Linked DNA regions of Homo sapiens. The protein of the gene in region 4 interacts with the protein of the main gene of each other region in a pairwise test. Each region holds a gene or a part of one and is shown on either strand. Other genes may lie near its edges.

Evidence for each region.
Region 1: the proteins of ISY1-RAB43 (region 4) and KDM8 interact in binary tests that used the Homo sapiens proteins (3 or more experiments, as listed by UniProt).
Region 2: the proteins of ISY1-RAB43 (region 4) and UBASH3A interact in binary tests that used the Homo sapiens proteins (3 or more experiments, as listed by UniProt).
Region 3: the proteins of ISY1-RAB43 (region 4) and AQR interact in binary tests that used the Homo sapiens proteins (3 or more experiments, as listed by UniProt).

What each region holds. Positions count from the first base shown.
Region 1 is NC_000016.10:27,213,514-27,220,539, reverse strand, and holds part of KDM8 (bifunctional peptidase and arginyl-hydroxylase JMJD5), read right to left. Parts: intron 6,956-7,026; coding exon 6,789-6,955; intron 5,938-6,788; exon of another isoform or gene 5,768-5,937; intron 5,665-5,767; coding exon 5,532-5,664; intron 4,596-5,531; coding exon 4,551-4,595; intron 1,580-4,550; coding exon 1,430-1,579; intron 148-1,429; coding exon 55-147; intron 1-54. UniProt on the Homo sapiens protein: Bifunctional enzyme that acts both as an endopeptidase and 2-oxoglutarate-dependent monooxygenase.
Region 2 is NC_000021.9:42,441,893-42,448,201, reverse strand, and holds the end of UBASH3A (ubiquitin-associated and SH3 domain-containing protein A), read right to left. Parts: intron 5,751-6,309; coding exon 5,606-5,750; intron 5,049-5,605; coding exon of another isoform or gene 5,000-5,048; exon of another isoform or gene 4,897-4,999; intron 4,891-4,896; coding exon 4,784-4,890; intron 3,669-4,783; coding exon 3,559-3,668; coding exon of another isoform or gene 3,369-3,558; intron 1,146-3,368; coding exon 1,008-1,145; 3' UTR 518-1,007; downstream 1-517. UniProt on the Homo sapiens protein: Interferes with CBL-mediated down-regulation and degradation of receptor-type tyrosine kinases. Promotes accumulation of activated target receptors, such as T-cell receptors, EGFR and PDGFRB, on the cell surface.
Region 3 is NC_000015.10:34,966,726-34,973,910, forward strand, and holds the start of AQR (RNA helicase aquarius), read right to left. Parts: upstream 3,018-7,185; 5' UTR 2,889-3,017; coding exon 2,814-2,888; intron 1-2,813.
Region 4 is NC_000003.12:129,088,064-129,095,089, forward strand, and holds part of ISY1-RAB43 (ISY1-RAB43 protein), read right to left. Parts: coding exon 6,962-7,026; coding exon of another isoform or gene 6,923-6,961; intron 4,531-6,922; coding exon of another isoform or gene 4,451-4,530; exon of another isoform or gene 4,437-4,450; intron 3,284-4,436; coding exon of another isoform or gene 3,033-3,283; 3' UTR 1-3,032. Other genes in the region: RAB43 (ras-related protein Rab-43), read right to left, coding at 3,033-3,283, 6,923-7,026. UniProt on the Homo sapiens protein: Component of the spliceosome C complex required for the selective processing of microRNAs during embryonic stem cell differentiation. Required for the biogenesis of all miRNAs from the pri-miR-17-92 primary transcript except miR-92a.

The DNA.
Region 1 (7,026 bases), on a different chromosome or scaffold from region 4:
CTCCAGGGGCAGTGGGGAGAACCTGCAACGTCACCCCAGACCCCCAGTGCCCACCTGGCTCGTGTTATGGAGAAGGTGCGTGTCATGAGGGTACAGAGCCCCTGACTCCTGCGGGGAATACAGCCGGATGTACTTCCTCCCCATCACCTGGGGAGAGAGACCCTGACAGTCAGCTGGTGGCCTCACTCCACTGCTGCCCCAAGCCCACTCTGGCCTCTGTGCCCTTCCACATGCTGCTCCCTGGGCCCAGCCTGCCCTTCCCCACCACACACATGCTTATGGTTCCACGTGTATGTTTTTCTTTCTTTTTTATTTTTTAGAGACAGGGTCTCACTCGGTCATCCAGGCTGGAGTGCAGTGGTACGATCATGGCTCACTGCAGTCTCGACCTCCTGGCCTCCAGAGATCCTCCTGCCCCAGCCTCCCCAGTAGTTGGGACTACAGGTATGCCCCACCACACCCAGCTGATTTTTGTATTTTTATTTTTGGTAGAGATTAGGTTTTAATATGTTGCCCAGGCTGGTCTTGAACTCCTGGCCTCAAGTGATCCTCCTGACTCGGTCTCCCAAAGTGCTGGGATTATAGGTGTGAACTACCAAACTTGGCCTAAGGTATGTTTTTCTTCCAAATACATTTTGAAAAATAACTTCATTTTTGGAGCCCACAATTATTAGGCGCTTGTCTGTGCCAGGCACTGCTTAAGTGCTTTATGTGTGTTAACTGGTTTAATCCTCTCTGAGGTGGTTTATCTTCACTCTCATTTTGCAGGTGAGGAAACTGAAGCACAGAGAGATTAAATGAGCTGCCCAAGCTCACACAGCTGAGGTGTGGCAGGGCTGCTGTCTGCGCCAGGCACGCTGGCTCCCGAAGCCCAGCTCTTAGCCCACTCCTGGGCTGCCTCTCTGGACTGGTCTGCTGGGGTAGGAGAACGTTCTCCTTTACTAAACCTCTCTTTGCCTGCGAAAACCAGGGTGGTCTTACAGCAGTAGACAGAGGTGCCTCCCCTTGCAGCAAATCCATCTGCTCCTCTGACTGGGCCTCAGGAAAAAAACCTCCCAGTGACTGAGAAAACTCCTCCCCCAACCTGCCACCTCCTATTTGGAAGCTGGTCTGGATCGCATGGGTAGCAGGCGGGGAGGGGCAGAGGCACCGGGCACCCACACCAGCACTCGCTCCCTCTCCCGAGGGCTCCCCTGTGAGGGATCTTGGGAGGAGCACATGCAGGAGGAGCCGCTTCTGGAAGCACCGACTGCAGAGGCCTTCCTGGGCCTGGGGCCGTTTGTGGGTTTGCTTTATATTTTTGTCCTCATCCCCTTCAGTGCTTCTTGTTTCTTTTTAAGAGCCCGGTGTTTAAAGGCAGAGAATGTGGCCGGCCAGGTGTCTGGGCCAGGAGGAGTTAGAAGGCCACTATTCCAGCTGCAGCTCCAACCTGCACTAGGAAGTTTTGCTGGGGATCCTGATGTAGTGGGGAGATGGTTCCCTGGGGACCAAACCAGGCATTGATGGTGATTTCCTCCTCCTCCCCATCGCCCAGGCTGCAGTAGTCGGGGATGCTGATGTCCTGCTTCAACTCCGGGATCTGTGGGCGGCAGAGCAGACATGAGATGTGGGGATCCGGCTGGGGACACCGCAGCCCGGAGGCCAACGAAGAGTCAGAAACACATACCTATATCCATTATGTGTGTGTGTGTTTGAGACAGGGTCTGGCTCTGTTTCTCAGGCTGGAGTGCAGTGGCGTGATCTCAGCTCACTGCAGCCTCTGCCTCCTGGGCTCAAGTGATCCCCCCACCTCAGCCTCCTTACTAGCTGGGACTACAAGCATGCACCACACCCGGCTAATTTTTTTTTAATTTTTGTTTTTGTAGAGACAGGGTTTCGCCATGTTGCATAGGCTGCTCTCAAAATCCTAGACTTAATTGATCCACCCGCCTCGGCCTCCCAAAGTACTGGGATTACAGGCGTGAGCCACCGCACCCGGCCCTTGCCGTCCTAGTTTTAAAAGCCAGGGTAGGCACAGAGGATTTGTTGCCATACCTGGCAGAAACAGGCTGGGCAGAGAAGAGAAACTGCCTGACGAGAAAGGCAGGTGTGGGCCTGGGTCTGTGCTCTGAGCTTTATATGATGCAGTAAGGGTGGCGCGGCTCCCCATGGCCTCTGACAGAGTTATATGCCACACATCAAGCGATCTTGGATGTTCACGGTGGGGCAGGGCCGCAGTGGCCTGGCCTCCTTTATTTATTTATTGTAATTTTTTTTTTCAAAGACAGTCTTGTTCTGTCACCCAGTCCGGAGTGCAGTGGTACCATCATGGCTCACTGTAGCCTCAACCTGCAGAGCTTAAGCGATCCTCCTGCCTCAGCCTCCCAAATTGCTGGGACCACAGGAGCATGCCACCGTGCCTGGCTAATTTTATTTTTGTAGAGATGGGGTCTTGCTATGTTGTCCAGGCTGGTCCTGCTTGGTCTCCCAAAGTGCTGGGACTACAGGTATGAGCCACTGCACATGGCCCTGGCCTCCTTTACACAAAGCCAGGGTCTCAGAGTGAAAACACACTCACTCTAAGTCCACTTCCTGTCCAGACCCTTAGCAGGCACCTCAGTTACCTCCGGGGTTGAACCCACCAGAGCAGGCCACCAGCCCACACCCCCCAGGCCACCGAGAACCCCAGGGTTCTTCACGGGACCCTGGATGGACCTGGCGGCATTTTTCAAGCTTGAGAGGCATGAAAACAGGGTTGCCAGAGGGACACAGGGCTTTTTAAGAGTCACTGCTCCGCAGCCTGAAGGCACCTGCAGGTGGACACTACCATTCCTTCGGGAGCAGTGACGGTAACTTCAGGCTGCTGGCTCAGAAACCAGTGTGTACCAGGAAAAGCTGGAATGTTCTCCCTGCAGGGAGCTTGGTCCCAGACACTGCTATTCAGACCTTTAAGAACCTGTCTCAAATCAGCTGTGCAGAAACGCAGCCGCGCCTGCTGCTTAGGACTGAAGTACAAGTTCGCAAGCTGAGGTCCCTCCCAGGGCTGTGAGGGGTTCCTCCCAAAGGTAACCCGACGCTGCTGCTTTTGACCAGAACTGGCCCTGTGGAATCTGAGCAGAAACTATGATTGGTCCCTGATGACATCATCAGGATTTCTGAAAGGTGATTGGCTGACCAGATCATGTCATCAGAATCACTGGCCGAGGATGCAGAGACCCGAAGGGAATCAGTGCTCCCGAGATGTGACTAATAACTGAGGCAGGCTTAAACTGATGGCCAAAATCTTCTAGAACACGGGGTCCCTGGGAGAAAAGTCAATAAGAGGTTCTGGGACAAGAATTTGGTAGGAGTCCCTGAGCGTCCTGTAGGTAGAGAAGGTTCTAGAACACTGTCCTTGCCACACGGCATGATAACACCTGGGCATGGGCTGCTGGGACTTCTCCAGGGTCCTCTCCACAGCATGGTAGACACTCAGCTCTGGGACCCAAGGTAAACACCCAGGCGGCCCTCCATTACCCGAAACATCTTTCAAGTCCTGGCTCATCTTGAAAGTCACTGTGAACTTGGCCTTCTACTCCTAAATATAACTCCTCCTGTCCTACAAAGTATGAAACAGCTGCTCCAGGACAGGGAGCCAAGGTTAACCATGGCTTCCAGGGTCCCCAGCCCACACTGAGGCCATGCCCCCAGGATGACCAGGGTCAGGAGAAAGGTGGGTCTCGGGATCACACAGTAGGGACCTGATCAATTAGAATCCCCCTTTCCTTCACTTAGCAAGTGACATGGACAGGACGCAGGATGCACAGGTCCTAATAGGGAGGCCTGGGGAAGAGAAACCGCCAGCGTCCTTTAATGTCGGCATGAAGGCTCCTGGCACAGCCCCTACTGGCCCTGGGTCCCCCATCGAGACAGAGAAGCAGTCCTGGCTTCAGCAGTAGATACAGCAGCTGATCAGCATCCCAGGGCCCCACTGCAAAGGCTACAGAGGTGCGGCCCCAGCCCACCCCTGGCTGTAGCCCTGACCCTGACTGACTCGAGTCTTCCACGTTCGGGACACGCACCTGGCCCTATCCTTGAATCCTGCCAAGGGCTGCCTTCCTGGGCACTCCTGGCAGACACCACACCAGCCAGGTCCCTCCTGGGCGCCCCAGCTCCATCTATTTAGTGTTTTGGGGTCCTGAATCTGGGCATCTTCCCCGATCTTCCCTCCCTCCCCCACACATCCACCCACGTCCAGGGCTCGGTGGTTCACACCGGTCTTGAACTGCTCCACCTGCCAGCATCACCTCTCCTTGCACCACAGCAATAGCCCAGCCAGCCACCCGCTCCGACAGCTGCTCCCTTCATCTCTGAATAGCAGCCCCTACAATCCTCGGGGCACTGGCGACCCCCCAGTGTTTCCTGTCACTTTAGGAAAATGGCTCCTCATCACCCACGTCCTGTCACCTTCCTAGCCTCACCTGCTGCCTCCCTCCTACTCACGCTCACTGCTCCAGCCGCACTGAGCCCAGGAGGGGAGGAGAGGGGAAGGTGAGACGGTGAGGGGCAGAGGTGCGTGGCCTCAGACTTACCTGGTCAAAGAGCTGGTGCTGAGCAAGGTACCCGACGTCCCTTGGCTAATCCACCGGGGAAAACCAGAGGCAACACAGAAAGCCCAGTTAGTCATGACAGATGCCCTCCTGCTGCTGCTGTCCAGCTGGCCCCAGCTGCAGCACCCGTCACCCTTCCACTCCATCCTGAGTGGTCCTCTCCAACCCTTAGAGGCCCTGGGGCAGCTTCAAAGAACCTCTCCAGCACCGGGGTACCCAGTTTGTAAAGCACTGATCTCATCCATCTGATTGGCAAACATTTTCATAAAATGGCAACAAACAGTGCAGGCAAAGATGTAAGAAAATGGACACTTGTGTTAATTGCTGGTGAAAGTATAAGTGATCTAACTTTTGGGAAAAATAAATTGTCCTATCCTGTCCTGTCGTAATTTTGACAGGGCCTGGTTCTATTGTCCAAGCTGGAATGCAGTGGCCTGATCTTGGCTCACTGCAACCTCTGCCTCCTGGGCTCAAGCAATTTGCCCCACCTCAGCCTCTTGAGTAGCTGGGATTACAGGCACGTACCACTATACCCAGCTAATTTTTATATTTTTTATAGAGACAGGGTTTCACTATGTTTCCCAGGCTGGTCTTGAACTCCTGGTTTCAAGTGATCCGCCTGCCTCAGCCTCCCAAAGTGCTGGGATTACAGGTGTGAGCCACCATGCCTGGCTGCTATTAAAAATTTAAATACACATACTCTAGACTTAGCTGTCCAACTTTTGGAACAGGCTAAAACCCACTGAATTATACTCCCCTGCCCATTAAAAAGGACCTGACATGAATCCCTCATGTCTGCTGGCTAAGCAGCCTGCCTTCCTCGCTGCGGTCGTCCCTCCGACCACAGACTTACAGCCTGGCTCCTCCAAAACCTCCCATTACAACACATGGGGGGTTATTTGCCTAAATGTACTATGCTCTCTGCCTTGCAAGTACTAGGGGAAAGCAGTCCCCATGATGTACCTCATTCACGATGTATTTGCTGATGAACTCGTTGACCGTCATGAGGGTCTGGGACCATTCCTCATCTGTGTACCTCGAACCAACTTCCACTGGGACAGTTCGGCAGCCAGCGATCTCCTGGATATACTCCAAACTAGCAGAAAGACACACATTGGCATCGTCACTGCTAATATCTGTTGGGCATAGTACTAAGTGTGCTTTGCATGTGGTCCCCTTTCATCCTCGGAAAACCTCACGTGCAGAGACAAGGACTGTCATCCCCAGCTTCACTGATGAGGAACCGGCATGGAGAGGTGGGGCTCCCTGCTCAAGGCTGTGTGGCTCATACACAGTGCTGTGCAGCTTTGCAGACAGGGCCGGTAAGTCTGGTTGGCTGGGCTGCTCTAGTTCCCTGCTTGCCAACAGCCTCCTCACTTCTTTCTTTGCTCATTTTGTCACTAAGCTGAGAAACCTTTGAACAAATAGCGGACAGCGTGGCAGGTGGCAGTCTCCTGGACTCTGCCCTCTAGCCTGGGACTGATTCCAGGCCTCATCAGTTACAGGCCAGGGGATCTGAGGCAGGTTACTGAACCCGAGTCCTTGATCCCCATTTACAGAATGGGGGTGATGACAACACCTGTCCTAGTGCCAGGTACGTAGTAAAATGCTTAATGAAGCCTTGCTGTGAGGAGAGCTCCTGCAATGAGAATTCCTCCACATGTGTCAGCGGGTACCATTCCCTCCGCGAAACCACAAAACAGGCGGACTCCATCTACCTTCCTGGAGAGATGCCTCCTTATTTCCAAACTCATGCAGAGCCGCGGCATGACAGCCACGCTCCAGCTGCCTGATCTGATCTCCCCATCATGATTCTGAGAAAGGACTAGAAACAAACACAAGAGACCACAGAATCCCTCAGAGAGAGAGGGGCTGTCTCTTGGGTTATTTCTGCTCTTAGCTTCAGGGCCCTGAGATGGTCTGAAATTGCTAGGATCCTGTAAAATTGCATAACAGAAACATTCTAGGACTGCCACTTAGGGACTCATTAAAAAACCGCTTAAGGCGAGCAAGGTAGAAGGTAAGAATCCCATAACCTGCGGCATAAATTCAGAGCACCTTACTTTTCACTCTTTTTTAACCCCTTGGCAATCAGTCAAGGGCTGCTAGTGAAGCATCTACAAGGTTGCATTTCCCTGGGGATGGTCGGGAGGAATTCAGGGAGCCCTGGGGAACGCTAAAATGGGAAAAGGGACCTCACCTCCCTCAGCGACCACCCACCTCCACTTCTGCATGCACGGCCAGTGGTCAGCCACGCCTTTCAGGATCACGGGCCTCCCTGGAACCAAAAACTGCTCCCTGAAATGCTGGAGGGACGGACGGTGCAGCCGGGGGACTGTTTTTTCTAACTTCACATCTGGAATCAAACCATGGTCCGCCCTTGCTTTCTGTTTAAAATCAAAACAGAACAAAATAGCAACCACCTCAGGAAGTCGACATTTGAGGTATTCCACCAGGA
Region 2 (6,309 bases), on a different chromosome or scaffold from region 4:
AAGGCAAGGATCCTCCCCTGGAGGCTCCAGAAGAAACATAGCCTGCTGAGAAAATGCCAACCTCCAGAACCGTAGGAGAGTCAGCGTGTGTGTGTGTGCATGTGAGCGTGTGTGTGCCTGTGTGTGCATGTGTGTTTGTGTGTGTGCATTGCATGTGTATGCCTTTGTGTGCATGTGTGCAAGTGTGTGCATGTGTTTGTGTGCTCATGTGTGCATGTATGCATGCACGCGTTTGTATGTGTATGTGTGTTTGCATGCTTGTGTACCTGCGTGTGTGTGCATGTGCGTGTGCATGTGTGTGCGCATGTGTATGTGCACGTGTTTGTGTGTGTGCATGCTCGTGTGTGCCTGTCTTTGTATGCATATGTGCATGTGTGTATGTGCCTGTGTGTGTGTGTGTGTGTGTGTGTGTGTAAAGTTTGTGTTCTTTCCATGACCCCCAGGTTTGTGGTCATTGGTTACAGCAACCACAGAGACATAGTAACATGAATGTTGACAGCACGGAGCAGCAACCCAGTTTTGACCTGGTCGATGGTTTTCTGGGACCATTTTATTGACTATTACACCTGTTTTAGCCCATGTGGATATGGCTAAAGAGTGATGGACCCAGAAAAAGAAAAAACGATTGGGAATTTAATGATTAGACCATGGAAAATGAAGTGGTTAGATCCTTCGTGTGTGGTGAGTCTTTAATTCCTGGAAGTTAGAGTCCCGGGCAGTTGTGTCCCCAGCTGCAGACACTCGGTGTACATGCTGCAGGGCGGCATCCTCACCCAGCCACCTGCCCTGTGCTCCCCGCAGCTGGGCTGGTGGACGATGGGTCCACAGATGGGAGTTACAAAGGCGAAAGCCGGAGGGAAATATTCCGGGATATAAAAGTGCGTCTCGTGCTTCTACAAATCACATTGGGTGAGACTAAGACGCCTCTGGAAACAGCAGCATCTCCCAGCCTCTGCACATGGTTTCTGCCTCTCCACTCTGAGGTTATGACAACATCACCGTGGCTCTCAGTTGCCTGAGATCCAGTTCCTCCAGTTAAATGCTGCGTTCGCCCCGTGGGTCAGGGTCTTCACCGGTGGGTTCACCAACTCCCATTTTCCTTCCTCTTTATTTTCTTCACAGAAGCACATGCCCAGGGAAGGGATCTGGAACAGAGTTTTAAATCACTTGTTAATATCTTATAGCAAGTCCATCAATTTCAGACTAGCTCCAAAGCCAACTGTCAGGCACACCTCTACTTTGGAGGGTCTGCGACTGCCCAGGCTGGCACTGCCACCATTGAATGGCACCAACATCTGCCCTGGCGGTGCCCCGTGGGGGATGTCCCCTAGCCAGGGGACACTGGGTAATTCCGGAGACATTTCTGATTGTCACAACTGAGGATGGAGGTGCTGCCGACACCTAGCAGGTAGAGGTCCTACAAGGTGGTACATCCTACAATGAGTAGAACAGCCCCCACCACAAAGGTCTGCAGGCTGAGGTGGAGATTGCCATCCACCACTTAAGGAGTGACTCATATTCTCATATTCAGCATCACAAAAAGACACAGACATTGAGTTTTCAGACCCAAAAGAAAAGCACAAAGTGAACCTTTAGACCTCCATCCCTTCATCTGTGAAATGGATGTGTGAGAACAGAGCTTTGTGGTGAAGCCTTTTTTGTTTTTGTCTTTTCTTTTCTTTCTTTCCTTCCTCTTTCTAATGTCTAGAAATTCCTCAGGCAGATGAAATTTACAAAAATGCCAACTGGCAGGGGGGTCTGAGTGAGGCTGGTGTTGACCCTAGGGTGATTCTTTCCTCACGCTTGCAGAGGCTGTGGGCGAGGGGCGGTGATGGGCTGGTCGGGGAGGGTCCTGAGTGCTCCCTTTCCAGCTGCCCTGATTTGGGGGCCCATCATTTGGTAGAGCCCCCCCTTTGTATTTTCTGATATGCATGAGCAAGTCCAGCTTATTTTGGGGTAGGGGCAGGGTGAACGCCACGTGACCAGCATAAGAAAGTCCAGGAGTTTGGAAGTTCAAGATTGGCATCTATGGAAGGGGGTGAAGGGTCCAAGGAGTGGGTGGAGCTTTGGCCACAAAGGCTCATGGGTTTGAGGAACTGTCAGCAGCTGGTGTGTGCAGTGCTGCCACCCTTGGTTACGTGGGCCCCCAGGAGCGCCTGGGGCTGGAGGCTTGGTATGTGTATATGGGACTGTGGGAAGCGGGGCAGGGACAGGAGGAATGCATCAGAGCGCATGTGTGGGAGACCCATTTGCAGAAGCAAGAGCAACATTTTGGGAGCAGGTGGTGCCGGGGCTGCCCCGGACAGTCCCCAGGAAAATCCATGCAGACCTCTACCAGTGTGGCCCAGGGGGGTTGAGCTGCCCTATTTGGACAATGCTCACCTGGTGGCTCAAGAATCCAGGGCGCTCGGAAATGTCTGGATCATAATTGGGACACACCACCCTGGAGACATTTTGCAGGGGAAGCATGTTTCTACTCAGGTGCAGAGGAAAATGGAGCAAGAAAGGGAGATTCGGGTGTCTGATGCCTAATTGCTGAGTGACAATGACCCACGGCAGGCATGCTCTTCATGTGCGTAACCTCTCATCTGGCTGCTGAGGCAGGCGTAGCTAGAGAGCTAAGCCCTCCTGCAGGCACCTGGCTGGTGTCACTGGGCTGGGCCCGGGAGTTGGGCTCCTCTGAAGCCCCTGACCTCTTGGGGGGACTCAGCAACCCCCACTGCTGCCCACAACTTATGGCAAACAAGCTGTGGCCAGTGTGGTCCTGTGGCAGTGCTATGTGAAGAAACCAGGTCAGGGCCTCAAGCACCTCCGATGACAGGCATTGTCTATGCTGCACGTGCTGCCTGGGCACTGACCAGTGGACTGATGAATTTCATAAAAAGGTCAGGACTGTGGTGAGTCCAGCCTTGAGTAGATCTGCAGGGAAGGGCTGGGACTGGGGTGGGATCTGCACTCCTGAGTTTGCCTGCCTCAATTCACCCATGGACTGGACATCACCCTCTGGCTTTGCTGAGTGATAATCAAGGTTGTCCAAGATGTCACGTGTGCGTTATCCTCTGTTTGTCATTCACAAGGCCCTTGCCAGAGCCTGAGCACTCTGGCAGCTACAACCAGCTCAAGCTTCTTCCATGCTGGGTGACTCCAAGGGCAAGAGGATCAAGGGGCTCCTTTTCATCCATCAGCCGCCCTGCCCCAGGTCCCCAGAAGAGGCCAGAATCGAGTCCCACAGTCGTTTCTTCCCTCCTCATCTAAACTGCTTACTCCTTCCTGGACCGTCTGTTTTTCTACGAGAGCTGCAAGGGGTCATGGCATGAGCTGACTGGTAAAAAGTTGGCAAGTGGCCAATGATGATGAGGTTGACTGACCTATCCACCAGCCCCAGCCCGAAGTCACCCTTCGCATAAGAGCCGGTGGGCACAGTCTCCGGGGGCACGTGGATCCTGGTGGCCCTGGGTCAGCCGGACACTTGTTTTCATTCCGAGAAGTGGATGAGATAAACCTGTGTCTTCGGGATGCTTGATTTTGTGGCCCAAAGAGCCAAGAGTGGGCGCGTACCTTTCTCACGAGTTGGGCAAAATCCCCACATTCCCGGGGCGGCAGCCCGAGCAGTGGCCGCGTGCAGGAGTCCAGAGTGGAGCCGTGACTCACAATTAGGATGACACCCGCTGTGGAAAACAAGAACACCTCCAGGTCAAAGCAGCCCCAGAGAGCACCTTTTATTAGACTGGGGTCCCCAAAGTGGTGGGGGGCAGAGCTATCTCAGAGTGCCCCGAAGCCTGGCGAGACCCCCGGGCTAGAAGTAGTGTGGCTGGTAACCGCTCAGTGATGCCTGCGTCCCACCCTCGCTCATGGATTCCTCTGCACGCAGCAGCTGCCCACCAGCCTCAGGGAGGCCTAGGAAGTGAGCTGAGCCACCCCCTGTGGTCGCTGGCTGCCTGGGCCCCGTCAGCCACAGACTGGGATGTAGCGGTGGCTGACGCCCAAGCCAGACCTGATTCACTTTAGAAAGGTCAGCCGGTTATTTTGTCACACGAGCCTGCTACGACTCCTGCTTTAGATAAGAACACCTGGAGACCACAGGCCGAGTGGGTCTCCCTCAGGAGACACGCTTGTCCCTGCCAGCTCAGGGGAAGGCGTGGGAAGTCAGCGCTTCTGTGCATGCTTCATCCAGGACAAAGCAACACGGGAGGGTTAGGAGACCCGTGTGATGGGTCAGGGAAGGGGGCGCCACCTGGAAGTTGGTTGTTCTTTCTCTCTCTGTCTCTTTTGTTTCCCAGGAAGCTGACTCAAATCCCTTGGACATGGGTGGATTGTGTGACCCTGCTGGCCTGGGTCCCATCAGCATTCAGTCCCAGGATGGGGGGTTCCAGGGCCTGGGCGGCAGGGGAGTGTGTGTCTGTGCACCCGGTTACTGCACCAGCAGCAGCAGTGATGAAAACTTTGTTGCTGGAGAATGGTGGGGGGCGGGCAGGGGAAGTGGGGGCATTCATAGGTTCAGAAAATCGGCCAATTTCCATCTCAGAGATCATTCCCCTCCCATCAGCACTCAGTCCCAGGATGGGGGGTCCCAGGGCCTGGGCGGCAGGGGAGTGTGTGTCTGTGCACCCGGTTACTGCAGCAGCAGCAGCAGTGATGAAAACTTTGTTGCTGGAGAATGGGGGCGGGGGCAGGCAGGAGAAGTAGGGGCATTCATAGGTTCAGAAAATTGGCCAATTTCCATCTCAGAGATAATTCCCCAAGCCCCAGGGGCTGTTCATACTGAGGATGGTGAGGCACTTACTGTCCTGTGGACAGGTGTTGACGATTTGCACCATGCTCGCCGTGCACCTGTCCATGTACTCCTGGTAGCTCTCGGCCGGCATGAGGGCGGACAGGGGAAACGCGGGCCTGGAAGGATGAGAAGGAGAGGCTGCTGCCCTGGCACTTTCGTAGGGATTAGGAAGGCTCAGCTGCAGTTAGCTGGGGAAGGAGAACGTTCTTCCAGGATGGCTCTGCCTCAAGGCAGGCTCATGGTCAACAGGCAGGCTCCAGTTTTGTGCTGAAAACTGGCAAAGCACTGACAGTCAATCTCCAGCACACATTCTTACTCAACACCAGGAGGGCTCTGTGATGGCAGAGTCAGACATGGGTGGAGAATGACAAAGACTCTCTCCTTGACTAAACTCCAGTCCAGCTCCTCTGAACCTTCTTCTCAATGAGGTCTTGACCCTTGGGCTTCTGTGTCTGTTCTTGCAGAGTGAGTTTAGCAAGAACCTCCTACCTTCGACATCTGATCAAGTTCCTTATCCTCTACCACCCCCCAGGTGATGTCTGATCACCTTGGCCTGCCTTCAGCAAGAGTCTCCATTTAGGTCAGTTTAGCAAGAATGACCCACCTTCTCAGGAATTTTCCATCCACTGACCCCCACCCTGCTCTGTGGCTATAACTCCCCTCTTTTCCTTGTATTAGGAGTTGAGCCCCACCTCTCTCCCCTGCTGCAAAACCCCACTGCAGTGGTCCCTCTTGAATAAAGTCTTTCTTACCATTTTAACAGTGTCATGAAATTTTTCTTTAACAATAACTGGAAAAGCCCCAGTGGCAGAGAACTTTAGAACAGCATACCTGTAATCAGTGTCAATGTTGAAATTTGCCTCTTTCAGCTCTTCCAGGCTCATGAGGGTTGGGGTGGTTTTGCCAGCTTCCCATTTTGTCCATTCAAAGATTCCAGGTTCCACTCGTATCTTGATTTTTTTCTCCAGTTTGAGTTCTGGATTCAACAGAATACAAGTGTTTATCATCCTCAACATCCACCCTGACTTTGCATAAATAAGTCTCCTTTTAGATCTCAGACCGTCACACACACGTCTAAATCATGCCTTTTAAACAGTGTGATTTTCTTCTTGGCAAATACCGTTCTGTGATTAGGCATAGCTGTGCTATTTCTGAAGTCAAAACTGACGAGCAGTGGGAAGGTATCAGAGGAGTGATGGCCCCCTGTGTGCCAGGAAGGGCCAGAGTCTTCCAGGAGCTGGTGAGTGTCCCAGGCAGCAGGCTTAGGCTGGGGCTCACCTGATCACCCAGCACAGCTCCACCGTGAAACCAGCCCACCGGCTGCATCCTCCAACATGGCAGATCCAATGATCAATGGACAAGATGTGACCCATCATGAAGAATGTTGGCCTCATGAGGCACTTTCCTGATAAACACTTACACAGACGGGGCAAGAGGTGAAGAATGGAAGGAGCCATCTTCTGGAATATTCTGACTCCCTGCAACTCACATTTCCCAGGCATTTTATATTTTGATTAAAGGAAGAGCCATAAAGT
Region 3 (7,185 bases), on a different chromosome or scaffold from region 4:
ATTAAGATGTAGTGTGAGAAAGGAAGGTTCTCAGCAATCTTGGGCCATGGGAACAAACATTAATGTCTAATATTTGCCAGATACTGTTTAGGCTCTTCTAGAGTGCAAAGAAAGGTAATCTTTGCCTTCAAGGCCACCCTGGCCTTTTTTTTTTTTTTTTTTTTTTTTTGAGATGGAGTTCGCTCTTGTTGCCCAGGCTGAAGTACAATGGCGTGATCTCAGCTCACTGCAACCTCTGCCTCCTGGGTTCAAGTGATTCTCCTGCCTCAGCCTCCTGAGTAGCTGGGATTACAGGCATGCACCACCACGTCCGGCTAATTTTGTATTTTTAGTAGAGACAGGGTTTCTCCATATTGGCCAGGCTGGTCTCGAACTCCCGACCTCAGGTGATCCGTCCACCTCAGCCTCCCAAAGTGCTGGGATTACAGGTGTAATCCCACTGCGAGCCACAAGCCACCGCACCCGGCCCACCCTGGCCTTCTTTACATTCACACCTTAAGGTGTGTGTACTTGCTATTTCCTTGCTCTTCTCAAAACTGGCTCCTTCTTTGCATTCAGGTGTTAGCTCAAATGTCACCTCGGAGAGAACTTTCCTGACTGTCTTTCATACACCTCAAACCAGTCTGTCACAGCCCTGTTTCATTTTCCTCATAGCATTTATCAGTGTATGAAACTATACCGTTCATCTGTCTGGTTCTTCCCTCTAAAATGTGAGTTCCATGACAGAAGTAAACTAATAAATGACTTCTACTGCAAAAATGCAGGTATATGGGGAAAGAGACCTCTAATCTCGTTTAAGTTGTCAGGAAAAGCCTCTCTAAAGTAGTGTAGAAGGCTGAGAATGAATAAAGGAAGGTGGGGAGAAAAAAAATGAGGATTCCTAGCAGAGGAACAATGTTGAAAAGCCAGGAGATGAAAGATAGCATGGCACATTCAAATAAACGAAGTTCTGTACAGCTAAGGCACAGAGTTAGAAAGGAAGAGGAAAAAGAGGAAACTGAAGATATAAGCACAGGTCAAATCACACAACACTATGAAGGATTTCAGCCGTTAACCTAAGGGTAATTAGAATTCTTTAAAGATTTCTTTTTTTTTGCTTCGTTTTTAGACGGAGTTTTGCTCTTGTTGCCCAGGCTGGAGTGCAATGGTGCGATCTTGGCTCATTGCAACCTCCGCCTCCCGGGTTCAAGCAATTCTCCTGCCTCAGCCTCCCGAGTAGCTGGGATTACAGGCATGCACCACCAAGCCTGCCTACTTTTGTATTTTTAGTAGAGACAGGGTTTCTCCATGTTGGTCAGGCTGGTCTCGAACTCCCGACCTCAGGTGATCGACCTGCCACGGCCTCCCAAAGTGCTGGGATTACAGGCATGAGCCATCGCGCCCGGCTGAAGATTTTAAGGACAGCCAGCCTTAGTGTAGTCCCTGTAGTCCTAGCTACAAGGGAGGCTGAGGTGGAAGGCTCACTGGAGCCCAGCCAACATAGTGAGACCCTATCTTGAAAGAAGAAAAGGAAGGAAAGGAAGGAAGAGATTTTTTTTTTTTTTTGAGACGGAGTCTCGCACTGTTGCCCAGGCTGGAGTGCAGTGGCGCGATCTCGGCTCACTGCAAGCTCCGCCTCCCGGGTTCACGCCATTCTCCTGCCTCAGCCTCCCGAGTAGCTGGGACCAAAGGCACCTGCCACCATGCCCGGCTAATTTTTTTTCTTTTTATTTTTAGTAGAGACGGGGTTTCACCGTGTTAGCCAGGATGGTCTCGATCTCCTGACCTCGTGATCCGCCCGCCTCGGCCTCCCAAAGTGCTGGGATTACAGGCGTGAGCCCCTGCGCCCGGCCGGAAGGCAGAAATTTTAAGAAGGCAAGTGATATGATGAGATTTGCACTTGTATGAAATCACTCGGAAAGCAACATGAAGAATGGGCTAGAGCAGAGCAAGAGGAAGGACAATATAACAGATTACGATACCTTGGTCCAGGCAGAAAACAATGGCAACCAAGCTTAGGGTGACAGAGATGTAGAACACCAGATAGATTCAAAAGATATTTAGAATGTAGAAATGTAGGGACTAAGGGAAAGGGAGGATTCAAAATCACTCCCTAGGCTTCTGCCCTGGCAAATCTGTTGAGACAAGGAATAAAGAATAAAGAAGCAGGTGGGCATGATAACTTCTACATTGAACTACTTACACTCTTATGCAATTCACAAATAAATAATAAGAATGAGGAATGATGCTGACAACCACAGGACTGTGGTTCCCTATCCAAAGCCAACTGTGGCTCACAATGCAAGATAGTAAACAGATTCTAAATGAACGCTCTCAAACTACAGAATTACTCTGTTTTTAGATAGGTCTATTTGGAGGTGTCTTGTCAGTTTCTCATCGCTGCTCAAAAACTCAGGACACTCTAAGGACCAGGAAAAAGCCTACTCCTACTTGAAGAGGCAGTCCAGCATCACTCTGCTGCGAAGCCTACTTGCCAGTCTCAGATAGACTGGGGTGTTCCCTCCTCTCTGAATCCATTGCTCCTGAGACAAACTCCAACACAGCAAAACTCATACAGTAGTTTTATTTTCATGCGTCTGTCTTCCTTGGGCCATGAACTCCCCAGGGCAGGGCAGCTTCTTTCACCACGGTATGCCCAGCACCTAGCATAGTGGCCGGCACGGAGCTGATACTCAGTAAAAAGACGTGTGTGAATCAATTAACAAACGAATGCCTCCTCCGGACTCCTAAATCCTGAAAAAAAACCCCACCACCAGGCCTCGGGGCCACGACGTCCATACCCACTCACACACACCAGACTCGCCCGAGCTCACCTGGGTCACGAACTCCGCATTGATTTGGGACACCGTAGGGGCCACGATCTTCTTGGGCTGCGCAGGGGCTGCCATGGCAGCACTCTTCCCTCCACTCCAGTGGAAACTAAAGGACCGCTCTGGGCAGCGGCAACCCTGGTCCACTTCCCTTAAGTTACTGCCGGGGCGCTTAACTCCGCGCCGCACAAACGCTCCGGGCCGGATATCCTCAGCCTTCAGAGTCCCGTAGGGAACCCGTACAACAGCCCAAGCGTTCCTCGGGAAGCGGAATGGCGTGTAGCCGGAAGTTCATGCAGGCGTTGGGGCTGAGCTAGCGAGCCAAGAGCTTTGACCTCCTCTGTACACGCCCTCTAGCGGGCGGCAGAGAGAAGACACCTCGCTGGCGGGATTAGGAGGGCAAGGGAGGGACCCGGTGGATGGTGTTGGGTGGGGTTTCTCGTGGTTAGTGAAGAGTGCCGTGTGCGGTGAATGGGGATTTAGTTTTTTTTCAACCCTAAAGAAAAAACAAAACAAAACAAAAAAAACAGCCTGGGAATATGGGCTGGGTTTTAACTGCCCTTAACAGTGTTTTAGTTTAGTTTTGTTTTTTTTGAGACGGAGTTTCGCTCTTGTTGCCCAGGCTGCAATGCAATGGTGCAATCTCGGCTCACAGCAACCTCTGCCTCCCGGGTTCAAGCGATTCTCCTGCCTCAGCCTCCCGTGTTGTTGGGATTACAGGCATGCGCCACCATGCACAGCTAATTTTTGTATTTTTAGTAGACACAGGGTTTCTCCGTATTGGTCAGGCTGGTCTCGAACTCACCAACTTTAGGTAATCCGCCTGCCTCAGGGTCCCAAAGTGCAGGGATTACAGGCCTTAACAGTTTTATGGAGGTAAAAATTGACATACAATAACCCAGCCAGGCGCGGTAGTCACGCCTGTAATCCCAGCGTTTTGGGAGGCTGAAGCTGGCCGATTGCCTGAGGTCAGGAGTTTGAGACCAGCCTGGCTAACATGGTGAAAACCCATCTCTACTAAAAAACAAAATTTAGCCGGGCGTGGTGGCGCGCGCCTGTAGTTCCAGCTACTCGGATTCAGGAGAATAATCACTTGAAGCTGGGAGGCGGAGGTTGCAGTGAGCCGAGATTGCGCCATTGCACTCCAGCTTGGTGACAGAGCGAGACTAGCCTCAAAAAATAAAAATAAAATAATAATAAAAATAATTCACATACAATAACCCACACATATTTAGGTTGTAAAATTTGATGCGTTTTGACATGAACATACATTTGTGAAACTATTGCCAAAATCATAATGAGCATATCAAAGCCTCTAAAAGTTTCCTCGTGAACTTTTGCTATCTGTGCCTTTCACTGTTCCCACCCACTTTTCAGGCAACCACTGATCTGCTTTCTGTCACTATAGTTTGCTTTTCATGGAATTTTATATAAATGAAATAATACAGTGCATGCCTTCTTTCACTCAACGAAATGATTTTGAGATGGATTCATGTTGTTGCATGTATCAGTAGTTCATTCCTTTTTTATTGCTTAACATTCGTTCCATTTTACTGATATACCACAGTTTGATAAACTATTCATCTGCTGATAGACATTTGAGTTGTTCCAAGTTCTCAGTTATTACAAATAAAGCCACTATGAGCATTTGTGTATAAGTCTTCATGTGGACATATACTTCCTTTGCTCTTAAATACTTAGGAGTGAAATATTTGGGTTATACGATAGGTGTGTTTGTTTGTTTGTTGTTTGTTTGAGATGGAGTCTTGCTCTGTCGCCCGGGCTGGAGTGCAATGGCGTGATCTCGGATCACTGCAACCTCTGCCTCCTGGGATCAAGAGATTCTCCTGCCTCAGGCTCCTGAGTAGCTGGGATTACAGGCAACGCGCCATCACACCTGACTAGTTTTTGTATTTTTAGTAGAGACGGGGTTTCACCATGTTGGTCAGGCTGGTCTTGAACTCCTAAGCTCGTGATCTGCCCACTTTGACCTCCCAAAGTGCTGGGATTACAGGCATAAGCCACTGCACCCGGCAAGTATATGTTTAAGTTTTTAGAAACTGCCATCTTTCTAAAGTAGTACTATTTTACATTCACATCAGGAGCATATAATTCTAGTTTGTTCTCCACCTCGTCAACACTTAATATGGACAATTTTTTTTAAATTTTTAAGTTCAAGGGCACATGTGCAGGATGGGCAGGTTTGTTACATAGGTAAAGGTGTGTCATAGGGGTTCATTGTACAAATTATTTCATCACTCAGGTATTAAGCCCAGTATACATTAGTTATTTTTTCTGATCCTCTCCCTCCACCCACCCAACCCTCTGGAAGGCCCCAGTGTGCATTGTTCCCCTCTATGTGAATATGGACAATCTTTTAATTTTAGTCTTTATTTATTTATTTATATATTCATTTTGAGATGGAGTCTCACTCTGTCGCCCAGGTTGGAGTGCAGTGGCCCGATCCCAGCACACTGCAACCTCCACCTCCCGAGTTCAAGCAATTCTCCTGTCTCAGCCACCCGAGTAGCTGGGATTACAGGCACACGCCACCACACCCAGCTAATTTTTGTATTTTTAGTAGAGACGGGGTTTCGCAATGTTGGCCAGGCTGGTCTCGAACTCCTGACCTCAAGTGATCCACCTGCCTCGGCCTCCCAAAGTGCTGGGATTACAGGCGTGAGCCACCGGGGGCGCCCAGCCCCTAATTTTAGTCATTTTAATAGGTGTGTGATATATTTCGTTGTGACTTTCATTTACATTTCCCTAATGACTAATTGAGCATCTCTTCATGTGCTTATTTGCTATTCATATATCTTCTTTGGGGAAGCCTCTATTCATATTTTTTGCCCTTTTTTAAATTGAATAACTTGGTTTCTTACTACTGAGTTTCAATGCACACCCCTACCATTCCCAAATCCATACGTAAATTAAACATGTGTCTCTAGTTAAACTCTCCCTGGATGAACACATGCAAGAAACTGATAACACTATTGTTTCCAAGAAGAAGGAACTGTGGGGAGGGGACAACAGGAAGGGGAGAAAAGTTATTTCATATTTTATACCTTTTTGTAACTTTAGAATTTTGTAATATGTATGACATGTTCAAAAATAAACAGTGTAGGCCGGGTGCAGTGGCTCACGCCTGTAATCCCAGCACTTTGGGAGGCCAAGGCGGGCAGATCACAAGGTCAGGAGACTGAGACCATCCTGGCTAACAATCCTGTCTCTACTAAAAATACAAAAAATTAGGCGGGTGTGGTGGCGGGCGCCTGTAGTCCCAGCTGCTCGGAAGTCTGAGGCGGGAGAATCACTCGAACTGGGGAGGCGGAGGTTGCGGTGAGCTGAGATCAGGCCACTGCACTCCAGCCTGGGCAACAGAGCAAGACTCCATCTCAAAAAAATAAAAATTTAAAAAAACAGTAAAAAAATAAACAGTGTGGGCCAGGCGCAGTGGCTCACGCCTGTAATCCCAGCACTTTGGGAGGCCGAGGCAGGTGGATCATCTTGAGGTCAGGAGTTCAAGACCAGCCTGGCCAACATGGTGAAACCCCATCTCTACTAAAAATACAAAAACTTGCTGGGCATGGTGGTGTGCACCTGTAATCCCAGCTACTCGGGAGGCTGAGGCAGGAGAATCACTTGAACCCAGAAGGCGGAGGTTGCAGTGAGCAGAGATTGCACCATTGCACTCCAGCCTGGGCAACAAGAGTGAAACTCCATCTCAAAACAACAACAACAACAACAACAACAACAAAAATAAAAACAAAAATAGACAGTGTGAACGTGAAAGCAAAAGCCTGTAGGAATGGAGATTAAATGTGAAGTCCTTTTTCCCCCTATGTTATTGTGTAAAGTTTAGAGTGCTAGTGATTAAAATTTGCATCATCACAATTTTAAATGTAACAGATTTTGCATGTATAATATCTATTGACATTTTACTTACAAACACACTATAAAACAGGAAAAATAAGATTCTGATGGCTTTTATGATGAATCTTGACATATAACATTTTGACTAGCAAAAACCACAGGGACTGTATTTCTATACTATGCTATAGTTACAGCACAGATAAAGCCACCGAAGCAGGTCATGCAGGGCTATGTCAGGAGTCAACAATAAGGCTTGATGTGTTGAAAGCCTTGAAAGCTAGGGAGAGGAAGCTCTCTTCCACAATAACAATTGTGGAAGACAATGGGAAACCACTGATTGTAAATCTATTTTTGGAAGATGACTTCTGAGTAGTATGTCAAATGGGTTGGTGCAGGTACTATGGGGATGGGAATATCAGCTAGGAGACTACCGCAAATCTAAAGCTAAAATAAAAAGGACTAAATGTGGGTTCTGACAGTCAAAATGAAAAGGAAGGAATAA
Region 4 (7,026 bases):
GGAGAGCTTAGCCTGCCAAGGGGAGGAAACAAGCCGGCTTTGTTTTGTCTCACACACTTCCCCGTCTTCTCTCCCAGCCCAGTTTTAAGGGCCGGAAGGGCAGTGGGGCCCCCTCCTGGTGGGATACAGCAGGGCAGGAGCCCCTGCAACCCCAGGTACAGGTCTTGAGTCCCTGGACACCGGCTTTTGTGCCTGAGAGGGGGTGGGAACGCTTCTCTGTAGGAAATGGCTTCAGTCCAGGATCCAGGGGTAGGGGAACCTCGACCATGGGGTGGGTTGCTCCTGCCAGGGGGTACTAGGGGCAAGGCCCCAGGGTGGAGCCAGTTCTGGGAGCTGTGTCCAGCTAGGCATCTGTGACCCCAAATGGCATGAATAAAAGGGCAGGTTGCTAAGAGCCAGGGGAGGGCATGGGGCAGGGAGACCAGGTTGGCCCAGACAGGACAGAGGTGCTCCAGGGACAGGGTGCTGGAGTGAAGCCAGGTGGAGCGGTGGAGCTGTGGAGCCTTTGAAACATCCTGAGGGCCCAGGCCTGCCACAGGGTGACCTGGGCAGAGGAGAAGCCCAGAGGACAGCAAGGTGCCCAAATGAGGTCAGGGCTTCTGGGGTGGAGGGACGGGGGGCACAGTGGCGGCGGGGGAAGGAACGTTGAGTCCCAGGTGAGCCTGCCTTTCCAGGCCAAGCCCTTGGAGTGAGGGTGCTCCTGCCTGGGGGGCGAGAAGTGGAAGTGGCTCACAGTCCAAGGTGACAAATGAACCCATCACCGGTCAGCTACCATCCCTGTGAAGGAGCCAGGGTGGAAGGCCCTGTCCATGTCCTCCCTCCCTCCCTAAGCCCTGAGGAAGGTAACAGCCCCACCTGTGAGGCCCCAGCCTGGAAGCAGAGTAGGAGAGCCGGGCTTCTTAGAGGTGGGCAGTGGGTGGTGGTGGGCAGTACTGGTAAGTATGCTTGGGTGGCTGGGACTTGCCCTGGAACTGGGGCTGAAATTCAAACGGGGAGGCCCAGGCCTTTGTTCCCAAGACCCTGTGAATGCTCCCTGTTCCCCCAAAAACAGAGGGGCTCTGCAAGGACAGGCTTCATGGGATTTCTCTTTCAGAGTGGGCCTGCAGTGAAAGACCAGCTCAGCCCCTTCTGACCATGTGACCCCAGAAACTTCAGCCCCAGCAGAAAGGTTGTGAGGCTGGAGGAAGGCACTGCCCACGGCACATCCAGTCCCAGCGGGGTCTGGGGGCACCCCTCAGTGCCAGGCACTGTCTGCCCTGCAAGGGGAGCCCAGGCACTGCAGTGGAGGCGCAGGGGCAGAGCCCAGACCCCACTCAGCTCCACTCTCACCCCTGCCACAAGCAAAGCTGCTGAGAAAGGGAGCCAGGCAGCCTCGCCTCTGGCGCCCCCCAATCTGATGCACCCAGACTCCCCTCAATGCAGGTGCTAGCCCCTCAGCTCCTGGCAGCCTTCCTCCCCTGCAGAACCAGGCTCAGCCATTCCACAGGTAGCCTCCCTGCCCAAAAGGAAGCCTGGCAGGTGAGATGCTGGCTCCACCACCAGCATCAAGCCCTGCTTGTCTCAGTCTCAGCAGAGGAAACCCTGTCCAGGCCCCAACCCTGCCTCTTGGGTCACCGTGGCACTGCTGTAAGGCCTGCTCTTGCCCTATGGCCAGGCCTGCCTGGAAAGTGCTTAGTGCAGAGGGCAGGGAGGCATGGGGGAGGCCTCTCACTGGCCCAGGGACTGCACTGAGCCATGCCTGGCCTGCCCCTGGGAGCTAGACCACAAACCGACGCAGCCCTGCTCGTGGGTCCAAGAGCTGCTTACTTCTGGGGGCACCCATGCTGAGGGGGCTGCGAGGCAGAGCTGGGCTGACACAGACGGACTGGGATTGGCTAAGGAAGATCACCTGGCCCCTCCAGCCCTAGCCCTGGCTCTTTTGTCACTGTGATACCTCTGAGCCACATGCCCAGAGGACAATGCTGCTTCCCACATCCCCCTACCCCACTTTTGCCTTCTAACCTTGGTGCCCAGCTCAGGGTGAGGCAGTTAAGGGTCCAGGGAATAAAATGGGCCAGGCCAAGGACCGCCAGGGCCTCTCCTTTTTTGTCTGGGAGACTCGATTCCATAGACTGGGACCCACGCTCGGCTGGCAGGATTCCTGCTTGTGGGGTAAGGCTGGGTGCCTTGCGGTGCCCTCTCATCCCTGAGCCTCAAGGATGCAAGCTTCTACTTGGACCTTAAATGTCCACTTTCTCATCTCATTCCCCCACCTGCCAGACTTCTGAGTGCTGGCACTGAAGGATTAGCTAATTTTGCAACCTGAGTGGCAAAACACTGGGCCCTGAGCCAGCAGACAGTCCCCACCTAGCTGTGGGCCGTGACCCCACCTAGCTGTGGGCCGTGACCCCATGCTGTGCTGATGAAAATGAGAAGCTACACAGAAAGTCAGAAAACTCAGAGGTCCTGATAAGGCAGTGAGCCAGACCCCAGGGAGATGTCTGTGAGTGCTGCGGGGGCAGTGAAGGCAGGAAGCAGGTTCCCCGCCTGGAAGGGGCTGGGGCTTCCCTGGAGCTGCGCTCAGGCACCAAGTCTGTGGGTCTCATGGCTCTAGCTCTGCTGCTCTGTGCAGAGCCCCAGGATGACCGGGAAGAACCCAGGGCACTGGACACATCCCTGGAAAGCAGCAACCTGCTGCCACAGGTAAAGCAAACCCATGAGAGGAAACGGTCAGAGCCAGCAGGCATGGGACAGGGAGGACTGCTGGCCCCTCCTACTGTGGCCCACACCGGCGGGTTCAGGCCAGTCTTGGAATGTGAAGATGGTGGAGGGCCAGCTGCTGGCTGGCAGGGTGGCCCGCCAGGGTATCCTGCTTCCCCTTCCTCAAGGAGAGCCTCCATCCCGCAGCCAGGCCACAGGATGCAGAGCTCCAGAGCTTCACCCGGCTGCTGTAGTTGCCGGTACCCAGGAGGGCTGGCTCTGGAGGGCTGGGCTTGGCAGGCTGGGGAGAGCAAGGAGGTGGGGAACCCCCAGTCTGCCGGCCCGGCCCCTGGTCAGCACCCGCAGCCCCAGCCTTCTCCGATGTCCTTGCTGTTCAGCTGGATGTGGTCGGGGCTCTTCTCGCTGAACAAGGGGCCCCCGTGCCGCATGATGAGCTCCGTGGCCACCCTCAGGAAGGCCTCCTCCACGTTGCTCGAGTCCTTGGCAGACGTCTCAATGGCACACAGGATGTCATAGTGCTCAGCCAGGCTCTGTGCCTCAGCCAAGGAGACCTCCCGAAGCTCGCTGAGGTCTGACTTGTTCCCTGCGGAGGAAAGCCGGGGCAGCATGAGGCCATGGGGGCTGGGCAAGCCCAGTCCCACCTGGGAGGGTCACGCTGACAGCCCCATGCCACTCCCTTCCACCACTATAAATGGACACCCCTGGCATGGTCATCTGTCTTTCTTTAAAAAACCTTTTTTAGGCCGGGTGCAGTGGCTCACGCCTGTAATCCCAACACTTTGGGAAGCTAAGGCAGGAAGACTGCTTGAGCCCAGGAATTCAAGACCAGCCTGGGCAACACAGTGAGACCCCGTCTCAATTTACCCAGATCCTCCTAGATGGTATGAGATGACTTCATTACATTCCAAACAATCTGTTAAATTGCTCCTTGACCCAATTTCTAGAATAATTTTTTAAAAGTCTCTACATGGTTGACTTTTGTAATGTGGTTATAAGGAAGACAAAAAAAAAAAGAGTCTGGGCCAAGCGCAGTGGCTCATGCTTGTAATCCCAGCATTTGGGAAGGCCGAGGTGGGTGGATCACCTGAGGTTGGAAGTTCAAGACCAGCCTGGCCAACATGATGAAACCCCGTCTCTACTTAAAAAAAATACAAAAAATTAGCTAGGCGTGGTGGCGGGGGCCTGTAATCCCAGCTACTCGGGTGCCTGAGGCAGGAGTGGCAAGCGGAGGTTGCAGTGAGCCGAGATTGTGCCACTGTACTCCAGCCTGGGCAACAAGAGCGAAACTCCGTCATAAAAAAAAAAAAAAAAAAAAAGTCTGTAAAGATCTAAAATTTCCTTGGTAACCTTAATTGATGTAGCAACCAGTTTCAAAGTGTGAAACTTATTTGGATCCTGATCTCAACAAACTGGAAAAAATAAAACACATATGAATTTTATGGGCAATTATAAATCTGAATACAGACTGGCTATTTTATATTATTAAGGAAATGTCAGTATTTTTAGATGAGAAAATAATATTGCTGTTTTTAAGTGTTTAAATATTTTGTAGGTTCATGCTGGAATACTGCCAGGTGAAATGGTTTGATGTGAATTTGTCTCAATAATCCGAGGGAGGGGAGGTGACATGGTACAGATGAGAGGAGGTTGGACTTCAGTTGCTAATTGCTGAAGCAGGGTAATGGGTACCTGGGGGCTCATTATTATACTATTCTAAGCCAGATATAGTGGCTCACACCTGTAATTCCAACTACTTGGAGGTTGAGGCAGGAGGATTGCTTGAGGCCAGGAGTTCAAGATCAGCCTGGGCAACATAGCAGGACTGCATCTCTAAAAATATATGTATGTATATAAGTATGCATAAATAAATAGATAAAATACTATTTTCATAGCTGTATAAAATGTTCTATAGGCCGGGCGCGGTGGCTCACGCCTGTAATCCCAGCACTTTGGGAGGCTGAGGCGGGTGGATCACGAGGTCAGGAAATCGAGACCATCCTGGCTAACATGGTGAAACCCCGTCTCTACTAAAAATACAAAAAATTAGCCAGGCATGGTGGCGGGCGCCTGTGGTCCCAGCTACTCGGGAGGCTGAGGCAGGAGAATGGTGTGAACCCAGGAGGCAGAGCTTGCCATGAGCCGAGATCGCGCCACTGCACTCCAGTCTGGGCGACAGGGTGAGACTCTGTCTCAAAAAAAAAAAAAAGTTCTATAATAGAATGTTTTTTAATTAATTATTTTTTGGAAGACAGAGTCTTACTCTGTCGCATAGGCTGGAGGACAGTGGCACGATCTCGGCTCACTACAATCTCCGCCTCCCAGGTTCAAGCGATTCTCCTACCTTGGCCTCCGCAGTAGCTGGGATTACAGGTGTGTGCCACCATGCCTGGCTAATTTTTGTATTTTTAGTAGAGATGGGGTTTCACCATGTTGCCCAGGCTGGTCTTGAACTCCTGAACTCAGGCAATCCACCCACCTCAGCCTCTCAGTGTTAGGATTACAGGTGTGAGCCACCATGCCAGGCTGGAATGTTTTTCAGAAATGTCCTGGATAAATGGGAATTGGTGGCTGGGTGTGGTGGCTCACACCTGTAATCCCAGCACTTTTAGAGGTCGAGACGGGTGGATCACGAGGTCAGGAGATCGAGACCATCCTGGCCAACATGGTGAAACCCAGTCTCTACTAAAAATACAAAAGTTAGCCAGGTGTGGTGGTGCGTGCCTGTAGTCCCAGCTACTCAGGAGGCTGAGGCAGGAGAATTGCTTGAACCCGGGAGGCGGAGGTTGCAGTAAGCCAAGATCGTGCCACTGCACTCCAGCCTGGCGACAGAGCGAGACTCCGTCCCCCACCCCCAGCAAGAAAAGGTGGGGAAATGGTTAGGCTACGTGAGGAAAGCTCTGTTCATGCCAAGCACTCCATGTCCTAGTCTGAACAGGCTGTGGAAGGCAGGCCACATGGAACCAGGCACCACCCTCTTCCTGGCTGGAGTCAGGTCCAGGCCCTGTCTGTACATTTGAGTCAGAAGAATCAACCTGTTGGCCCAGCTACTCGGGAGGCTGAAGCAGGAGAATCGCTTGAACCAGGGAGACAGAGGTTGCAGTGGTTTTGCAGATCTTGCAGAACCAAGATCACGCCACGGCACTCCAGCCTGGGTGACTGAGTAAGACTCTGTCTCAAAAAAAAGAATCAACCTGTTGGGGTGAGGACCCCAGGGATAACATAAGAGCTAAAGAGCTTCTCCAGTCCAGGTCTGGGAAGGTTATATAGAAGGAAAACAAAGGTAAACAGCATCCTTCCACAGCAGCAGTTCTCAAAGTGGGATCCTTGGACCAGCAAGGTGGGTGTCACTTGGGAATTTGTTAGAAACGCACATTCATGGGCCCCACCCAGCCCGCCTGGATCAGATGCTCTGGAGGTTGAGGCCCTGCAGCTGCACTTGAAGAAGACTTCTGTGGGATTCTGAGGCACGGAAGCCATCAAGTGTCCCTGCTCTGTGTGCGGCACAACAGAGAAAGCCACAGACTTGAGGTCAGCAGAAGCAAACTCAAAGCCTACATGTGTATGCTCACAGGCCATGTGGACCCGGATAAATCACTGCACTTTTCTGAGCCTAGCCCCAGCCCCTGTCAAATGAGGAGAAGCCGGGGTACAAGAGCTAAATCTTGACACATGTGAAGAACAGCAGAGCAAACTTCAGCTCTCTTTCTTCTTTCCTCTAATTCCAATTTTGAATATAACTTTCTTTTTTTTTTTTTTTTTTTTTTTTTTTTGAGACGAATCTTGCTCTGTCACCCAGGTTGGAGTGCAGTGGCGTGATCTCAGCTCACTGCAAGCTCCGCCTCCCAGGTTCATGCCATTCTCCTGCCTCAGCCTCCCCAGCAGCTGGGACTACAGGCGCCTGCCACCACAACCGGCTAATTTTTTTTTATTTTTTTAGTAGAGACGAGGTTTCACTGTGTTAGCCAGGATGATCTCGATCTCCTGACCTTGTGATCCGCCCGCCTCAGCCTCCCAAAGTGCTGGGACTACAGGCGTGAGCCACCGTGCCCGGCCTTGAATGTAACTTTCTAAGTGATTAGCAGGATCAGGATTTGCAAAACCATGGCTCAAACTCTGGCTGGGACTCCCTCTGAACTCAGGGTTACACTGTGTTTAAAAAGCAGAGGGAGGCATGGACAGGCAGAGTGATGGGATTTGTGGTCCCGAGGAATCCCCAACTCACCGATCAGCAGCTGCACAATGTTGGAGCCCGCATACTTCCTCACATCCTCAATCCAGTGAGGCACCGACAGGAAGGAGCTCCTCTTGGTGATGTCGTAGGCAAGG